Regions from separate parts of the Homo sapiens genome. Here all the other regions are linked to region 2. Evidence: fine-mapped expression QTL. A gene starts in region 2. Each other region holds a variant in brackets. All regions are shown on one strand. Distances are between the middles of the regions. Region 1 holds the start of HSD52 (a long non-coding RNA gene). Region 2 holds the start of FGGY-DT (FGGY divergent transcript). Region 3 has its middle 39 kb from the start of FGGY-DT.

What was found.
Region 1: its variant is fine-mapped to the expression of FGGY-DT in testis (GTEx, PIP above 0.99).
Region 3: its variant is fine-mapped to the expression of FGGY-DT in subcutaneous fat (GTEx, PIP 0.95).

What each region holds. Positions count from the first base shown.
Region 1 is chr1:59,144,611-59,147,374 of GRCh38, reverse strand. It overlaps HSD52 (a long non-coding RNA gene), which reads left to right and starts at 568. Exons shown (of 3, transcript NR_027120.1): 1 at 568-699. RefSeq lists a silencer at 410-559 and an enhancer at 680-739. The variant C/T (reference allele first, on the strand shown) is at 1,129.
Region 2 is chr1:59,295,106-59,297,867 of GRCh38, reverse strand. FGGY-DT (FGGY divergent transcript) reads left to right here and starts at 1,318. Exons shown (of 2, transcript XR_001738089.2): 1 at 1,318-1,499; 2 at 2,104-2,762. It overlaps FGGY (FGGY carbohydrate kinase domain containing), which reads right to left and starts at 774. Exons shown (of 16, transcript NM_018291.5): 1 at 718-774. RefSeq lists silencers at 733-822, 833-1,372.
Region 3 is chr1:59,255,884-59,258,647 of GRCh38, reverse strand. No RefSeq gene overlaps it. Among named protein-coding and RNA genes, the nearest start is that of FGGY-DT, 39 kb to the left of the region's middle. The variant TTCTG/G (reference allele first, on the strand shown) is at 1,343.

The DNA of each region.
Region 1 (2,764 bases), 150 kb after region 2:
AATCAGCATCACCACCCTAAACCCACAGAATCAGAAACCGTGGAGGGAGCCAGCAACGTGTTTGAATACAGCCTCTGGGTGATGCTGATGCACTCAAGTTTGAGAACTGCTACTCTGGGGGAAAGAAGGACTTTGTTGGAGCCTTGGAGGCAGGGACGGACTTCATAGGTCAGGCGAGAGGACAGGTCCCCGCGAGGGCGGACTAGCACTGGGTTGGTTCCCTGCATCCAAGGCCGCGCAGGGTGGTCCCAGCCCCAGTCTGACCTGGGAAGTTGGAAAGGCCAGGGCTCCTACGTGCTCACACCTCCACCCCAGGAAAGTCCCGGCGGCGAGGCCGTGACCCTCCGCCGGAACGCCCGCCTCCCTGCAGCCTCAGCCCCGCCCGGGAAAAACCGCTGCGACCCGGGGCAGGTCCGTTCCCGCTGCTCGCAGCCGGCGGTCCCTGGCCCGGCGGTCCCTGGCCTAGCGCCCCCGCGCCGCGCTGGTGGGGAGCGCGGCCCCTCCGCCCCGTGGCAAGTTCCCTTCTCAACTGCCCTGCGCCTCCGCTGGCCCGCGTGAAACCCTCTCTGCTGCCTCGACTGACTGTCGTTTCCGTGTCTTGATTGTGGCCTCTGCCTCTCCCCCTTCCGATTTCGTTCGACTTCTTTCTACAGTTACTAAGCGCCCACTGTGTGCCCTGGAAGGGACTAGACTCAGCAGGTAACGGGAAACGAAGGCACCTGCCGCTCTGAAGTTTCTCCGCATCTCCCTCCATCCTCTGTTCCATCCCCATTCTCAGCATTTGTCCCCTCCCTCCTCTTCTTTTTTTTTTTTTTTTTAATTTAATCTAAAGGAACCTTGCTTCTGGAAGACCTCACAGTAGAATTAAAAAGCCTACTTTTATCTGACTTCTAGAGAGTTGCAATTAAAATGTACATCTTACCTTGACTCATGCCAACAAGTTAAGCTGTTATCAGCTATTAACACCTCAACCAGAATTAGTTTATTAACCTAAAGCAGACAGCTTTATCCTATGGAGGTCGCCTACTTGAGATAAACTATTATTCACATACTTTCACTTTTGTGCCACTCACTCATTCAAAGAAAAATATTCAGTCGTTCAACTATTTATTGAGCACCTAGTATGTG[C/T]CAGCATTGTTCATGACTAGCACTGGTCGATGGCAATAATATTAACTACATACGACATTTTAAATTTTCTAGCAGCCACATTAAAGAAAGTGAAAAGACATAGGTAAAAGTAATTTTAATAATTTAACCCAATATGCCCTAAATATTATTTCAATATGTGATCAATATAAAAATTATCAATAAAATATTTTACATTTACTTTTTTTTTAATGCTGTGTCTTTGAAACTTTGTGTGTATGTTACACTTCCAGCACATCTCAGTTCCTGCTAGGAACATTTCAAATGCTTAATAGCCACATTGGCTAGTGGCCACTGTGCTAATCACTGCAATTCTAGACACTTGGAGAACAGCTATGGAAAGACAAAGGTAGAAAGTCAGTAAACTCATGAACAAATAAAATAATCATAAGTAGTGTTCAATGCTAGGAAGAAATTAAAACAAAGTAATGACATAGAATGATGGACATTACCTCATTTAACCTTTTCAATTCCCCCCTCAAGTTGAATAATAGTATATAACAATGTTATAGGCCGGGTGTGGTGGCTCACGCCTGTAATCTCAGCACTTTGGGAGGCCGAGATGGGCGGATCACGAGGTCAGGAGATCAAGACCATCCTGGCTAACACGGTGAAACTCCGTCTCTACTAAAAATACAAAAAATTAGCCAGGCGTGGTGGCGGGCACCTGTAGTCCCAGCTACTCAGGAGGCTGAGGCAGGAGAATGGCGTGAACCCAGGAGGTGGAGCTTGCAGTGAGCCGAGATCCCGCCACTGCACTCCAGCCTGGGCGACACAGCGAGACTCCGTCTCAAAAAAAAAAAAAAAAAGAAAAAAAAAAAACAATGTTATATAACAATTTTATAGCTATGAAAACTGAGGCTGAGACACAAAGAGCAACTTGTCCAAGTGCTTACAACTGGTAAATTCTATGTCCAGGATTCAGATCCCAGCTTGACTGTCTTCCATGCTCATTCCCATTACCCTACAAGGCCAGGTCATAAAGAAGACAGAGGGGAGGGAGGAGGAGTTGAATGGCTTTTGGGGTTTAAACTTTTGAGCACTGAACTAGGAATTTGGTGCTGCTGTGTGTTATTGATTAGGTCTCATGACCTCTCTGGGCCTTCCTCGCAGGTAACATGGAAAGCTTGGCCTTTTTCACTGGACCATTCACAAAGGGAATAAAGAGTTTTGAATAAAATAGTTAAACTTTTTATCCTCAAATGTACCTGCTTTTACACAAGTTTTGTGAAAAGCTCAAAGTATTTTTTTCCTTAGTTCGGGTGGACTAGACTAAAGACAATGGAGACAACATTGCATAGTGCTAGAAGCAGGGGGCTTTGAGTGGTGGTTGGCTGGTCATCCTAGCTATGGGAACTTAACTGTTTTGAGTTTCAATTTTCTTTATTTTAAAGCAGGTATCTACCTCATGGCATATTTGTAGAAGGGAAATGAAATGTTGCATGTAAGCATTTAACATAGCAACTAGCACATAGTAATCACACAATAAATATTGGCCATTATATTAACAGCCCCCATGGGTATTATACATTTGGCATTAGAAAGACTTGAATTTGAGTCTTAAATCTATCACCTACAGGCTGTGTGACTTAAACAAATCAATTAGTATATCTAGTTC
Region 2 (2,762 bases):
TGATGAGGGAAATTCACCATTTTGCACCTTGTCAATTTTTTTTTTTTTTTTCTGAGACGCTCTGTCCCCCAGGCTGGAGTGCAGTGGCACGATCTCAGCTCACTGCAAGCTCCGCCTCCTGGGTTCACGCTATTCTCCTGCCTCAGCCTCCCGAGAAGCTGGGACTGCAGGCGCCCGCCACCACGCCCGGCTAATTTTTTGTATTTTTAGTAGAGACGGGGGTTTCACCGTGTTAGCCTGGATGGTCTCGATCTCCTGACCTCGTGATCCACCCGCCTTGGCCTCCCAAAGTGCTGGGATTACAGGCGTGAGCCACCGCGCCCGGCCCCTTGTCAATCTTTAAATAAAAAGGAAACGGCTAAAAATGAAAAGATATCCCTAGGCCTTTCTACTCAGGATAACTGTAACCAAACAGCATTATCTCATCTAAACTCAGCTGTGCCTCAAACATTATCACAAGTGCTGGAAGCGTTTAAATCTACAAGCAACACTAGCCTAAAAATGCCTTCGGTAGCCAGACGTGAATTAAAGGCTCCTCAAATGCCAGGAAAATGTCCTACAAGGGTAAGGGGAGGAGAGAAAGAGTACTGAATACAGATAAGTGGGCACTGATCGGAGAGGAAGCAGCACGGGTTCCAGACACCTAATAGGCAGCCTTGGGGATGCAGTCAAGGCCGACCCTTCCCTTCCCTTCCCTTAAGTGGCCGGACGCCTCACCCAGAAGAGGACACAGGGGACTCAACAACGTCTCGGGAACAACGGCCCGGCGGGTGTGAGACTAAGCGGCCAGGAGGAGGAAGGGGAGGAGGAGGCAGGGGAGGAGGAGGCAACGACTGCGGGAAAGGGGAAGGAAGGGCCGGGCCGGGTTGGAGAAGCCTCTTTCTGGGCGTGCGCGCTAAGAGCCTGCGCACCAGCAAAAGCCCCCAGCGCCCACGTGGGACTGAGAGGAGGGTCACTTACAGTACTTGTCCAATCTGAAATTACATTTTAGCTAGACGGATTCTGCACGTAGCCGCGCCGAACCCCACGGCGCCTGAGCAGGGCGGTCCCGGGGCGGCTACAGCCCCGCCTTGCGCGCGATCCCGCCCCCGCCGGCGCGGCCCCTGTAAAGCGCGGCCCCTGTAAAGCGCGGCCCCTGTAAAGCGCGGCCCCTGTAAAGCGCGGCCCCTGTAAAGCGCGGCCCCTGTAAAGCGCGGCCCCTGTAAAGCGCGGCCCCTGTAAAGCGCGGCCTGATTGGCCCTTTGAACCGGGCGTGGGATTGGCCGTCGCCTGCCCACCCCGCGGCTGCAGCGTTCCCTGGGGCCTAGCCAACCGCGGGCAGGGCTGGGCAAGGCGGGAGGAGCGCGGACCCAAGATCGGCTACGCTGCGTCTGCTCAGGCTGCGAGTTCCCGGCTCTGGGGACTCACCTTGCGGAGCTTACCCAGGCGGACTCTCCGCAGCCCCTGATGGGTGTGTGTGTCAGACCGTTTACTAAACACCAGGACTGTTGTAGGCGACTGTAAGAAATAAGAATATTGCATGGTTACAATTCTTGAATGCTTACCTTGTGTCTTGTTCCTTACTCTACAGAAATTTTCTAATCCCGTGGCGAACCCCCGTACTTCAACGTATGACATTCTGTAAATCTACAAAACAGATGGGTCCCTGCCTTTGAGAAGTTTTTACAATTTAGTGGGTACTGGACACGGACCTAATTTAATTCTCACATGCCTTCCCTTTCTAATAAGCTGCATGTTATGTATCCCTATTCTACAGATGTGGGGAATCCGAAATTTTTAGCTTTTACTGGGACACACAGCTAGCAAGCAACTAAAGCGAGAATTCCAACCTGAGCTCCAATCCGAACTATTTTCATAAAAGGCAGGATCCCAGGCTGAGGGAGTTCGAGGTTTGGGAGACAGTTTAGCAGTCGCTGAGTCCAAACATGTTGTTTTCCTAGAAAAGAAAACTGAGATCCAGGAAAGGGAAGTGATTTTCCAAAGACACACCTGTGAAAGGTAATAATTTCACTGAACGGATCTTAAGTGGCAGGTGCACTAAGATTGTCTGCTATCTTCACAACAACCCCGAAGTAAATAAGTGCTCTTATCTTGGTCTTACAGGTGAGGAGAACAGCCCAGTGAGGCTGAGGCCACACAATTAACCCCAGTCTTTGCACTACAACTCTACCAGGGATCCTGGTTTGGCTCATTTTCTTTCTTCTGCACCATGATTGTTCACCTTTTCATTACCAGCAACATACCCAAAGACCTAGCTATAGACTCGTTGGAATCTGTTACTTAGCAGCTGTGTGAATCAAGTGTTCAATAGGAATAATAAGATGTATTCATCTTACCTTTTCAGAACATTATGAAGAACAAATGTGGTAAGACATATGAAAATGCTTTGTAAAGTGTTAGATGCTTAATACACAGAAGACATTGCTTCCAGATCTGTTTCAACGTACCCCAAGAATGGAATAAGTGGAATATGCTGGTTTCATGCACTGTGGCAAGGGGGTCTCATCTTGGCTAGACTTGAATAAGTGGATTTGTTGCCTGGCCTCTGTGGATGGCTCTTTCTCTGGGCTTTTGTGTATTTGATTTTTTATTTGCTCCAGCAGCCGTGTTGAACCATGAAAGGACCTCAGGAATGAAACCCACACACAGCAAAGCAACAAAGTGAAAGAAGCGTGGATTCCTAATGCAGGAGGCACTGAACCAATCAATACCCACTGCCCTCCAGACCTCCACATGAAAGAAAAAAACTGCTGTCCTGTGTA
Region 3 (2,764 bases), 39 kb after region 2:
ACTGTTTTCCAAAGCGCTTGAACCAATTTACAATGACATCACTAATTTATAAGAGGAGTTCCGGTTACTCCACATCTTTGACAGTACTTCATATTGTCAGGCTTATTAATTTTAGCCATTCTGGTGGGTTTGTAATGGTTTTTAATTGTGGGTTTATCTTGAATTTCTCTCCTATAGCTAATGAAATTGAACACCTTTCCATCTGCTTGACCATTTGAACAGCCTCTTTTGTGCAATATCTGTTAGATAATTTTGCCTTTGTAAAATTGGGTTGTGTTTTTGTTATTTAATTTTGGAAGGAGTTCTTTATACATTCTGAGTATGAGTGATTTGTTGGATATATGTATTATAAATAATGCCAACCTGGGTCTCTGGGTTGCTTCTCTAGCCTCTGTTTGCACCTGTAACTCTGTGCCTTGCCTATTTGCTTTTTGATAAACAGAAATTCCCAACATTAATAAAATCAATTTTATAATTTTTTTCTTTTAGGGTAAATTCTTTTTGTGTCTTATTTAATACATTTTACCTATATCAAAGCCAGGAAGATATTCTTCTATATTTTCAGCTAGAAGCTTGATTACTTCGGACGTCACATTTTGGTTCTTAATCTACTTCAAATTAATTTTTGTGCATGGCCTGAGGTAGAGATCAAGCTTCCTTTATTTTCCACACTGATATTCAATATAAATTCAATATAAATGTAAACTGAGTGTCAATGTAGAAAATAAGGAAAACTTGCATTATTTATTGAAAAGATGGTCTTCTTCATACTGAATTGCAAAGCTTTAAGTCAAATGACCCTATGCGTGGGGATCTATTTCTGGACTCTATAATCTATTTTATTGTTCTGTTTTTCTAACTTAATACCAAAACTGCACTGTCTTAATTACTGTAGCTCTATAATAAGTCTTGAAATCTGTTAAGTATTCCAATTTTGGTCTTTTTTTAAAAGATTGCTTTGATGGACACATTTTTTATGTCCAATAATAAAGAAATGACTACATAAATTATAGTACCTCCATAAAATGCAAGAGTATGCATCCAAATTCATAAAATTTTGAATGATGCGGAAAAACACAAGAAATAATACTGAGTGAAGAAAAAAGAACATCGACTTGCAAAACCTGTATGACCTCCATTATGCACATGAAAAATATATAAAAAGAAGATGACAGGTAAATATGCCAGAATGTCAACTGTGGCTCTCTTTTCAAAGTGAAGTTATAAATATCAATTTCTGCCATTTTCTTGTTGATCTTGGATCCATTCACCACTTGCTGTGATCTTCTTTGTATTGCAAGGGGCTGAACCCTACAAACTATATTTCTCATGCATTCTTCCT[TTCTG/G]TCACTCCATGAGGACTGGCCAACAGAAGGCACTAGGAAAGAGATTGGGAATGGGATTTGCTTAGTTAGGCAGCATGTCCAGGCTGTGTCTTCTCAATGTTTTCATCTCCCTGTATGTGGCTTTGGTAGCTTCTTAGTGATCGTAGCACTTCTTTCATCCATCCTGCCACCCTTAAGGGTGACAATGGGTCTCTGGGTTGCCTCTCTATTCCATGTTTGCACCTTTAGCTCTCTGAAAGCATGTGGAATTAGTTCCTTAAATTACATTTCCTCTATTGAATTATTTGGAGTGATTCTATTTTTCTTAACTCGACTTTGACCTAGTAATTACTGTTTTCTTTTTTTTTTTATTATTATACTTTAAGTTTTAGGGTACATGTGCACAACCTGCAGGTTTGTTACATATGTATACATGTACCACGTTGGTGTGCTGCACCCATTAACTCGTCATTTAACATTAGGTATATCTCCTAATGCTATGCCTCCCCACTTCCCCCACCCCACAACAGGCCCCAGTGTGTGATGTTCCCCTTCCTGTGTCCATGTGTTCTCATTGTTTAATTCCCACCTATGAGTGAGAACATGTGGTGTTTGGTTTTTTGTCCTTGCAATAGTTTGCTGAGAATGATGGTTTCCAGCTTCATCCATGTCCCTACAAAGGACATGAACTCATCCTTTTTTATGGCTGCATAGTATTCCATGGTGTATATGTGCCACATTTTCTTAATCCAGTCTATCATTGTTGGACATTTGGGTTGGTTCCAAGTCTTTGCTATTTTGAATAGTACCACAATAAACATACGTGTGCATGTGTCTTTATAGCAGCATGATTTATAATCCTTTGGGTACATACCCAGTAATGGGATGGCTGGGTCAAATGGTATTTCCAGTTCTAGATCCCTGAGGAATCGCCACACTGACTTCCACAATGGTTGAACTAGTTTACAGTCCCACCAACAGTGTAAAAGTGTTCCTATTTCTCCACATCCTCTCCAGCACCTGTTGTTTCCTGACTTTTTAATGACTGCCATTCTAACTGGTGTGAGATGGTATCTCATTGTGGTTTTGATTTGCATTTCTCTGATGGCCAGTGATGATGAGCATTTTTTCATGTGTCTTTTGGCTGCATAAATGTCTTCTTTTGAGAAATGTCTGTTCATATCCTTCTCCCACTTGTTGATGGGGTTGTTTGTTTTTTTCTTGTAGATTTGTTTGAGTTCTTTGTAGATTCTGGATATCAGCCCTTTGTCAGATGAGTAGGTTGCAAAAATTTTCTCCCATTCTGTAAGTTGCCTGTTCACTCTGATGGTATTTTCTTTTGCTGTCCAGAAGCTCTTTAGTTTAATTAGATCCGATTTGTCAATTTTGGCTTTTGTTGCCATTGCTTTTGGTGTTTTAGACATGAAGTCCTTGCCCAT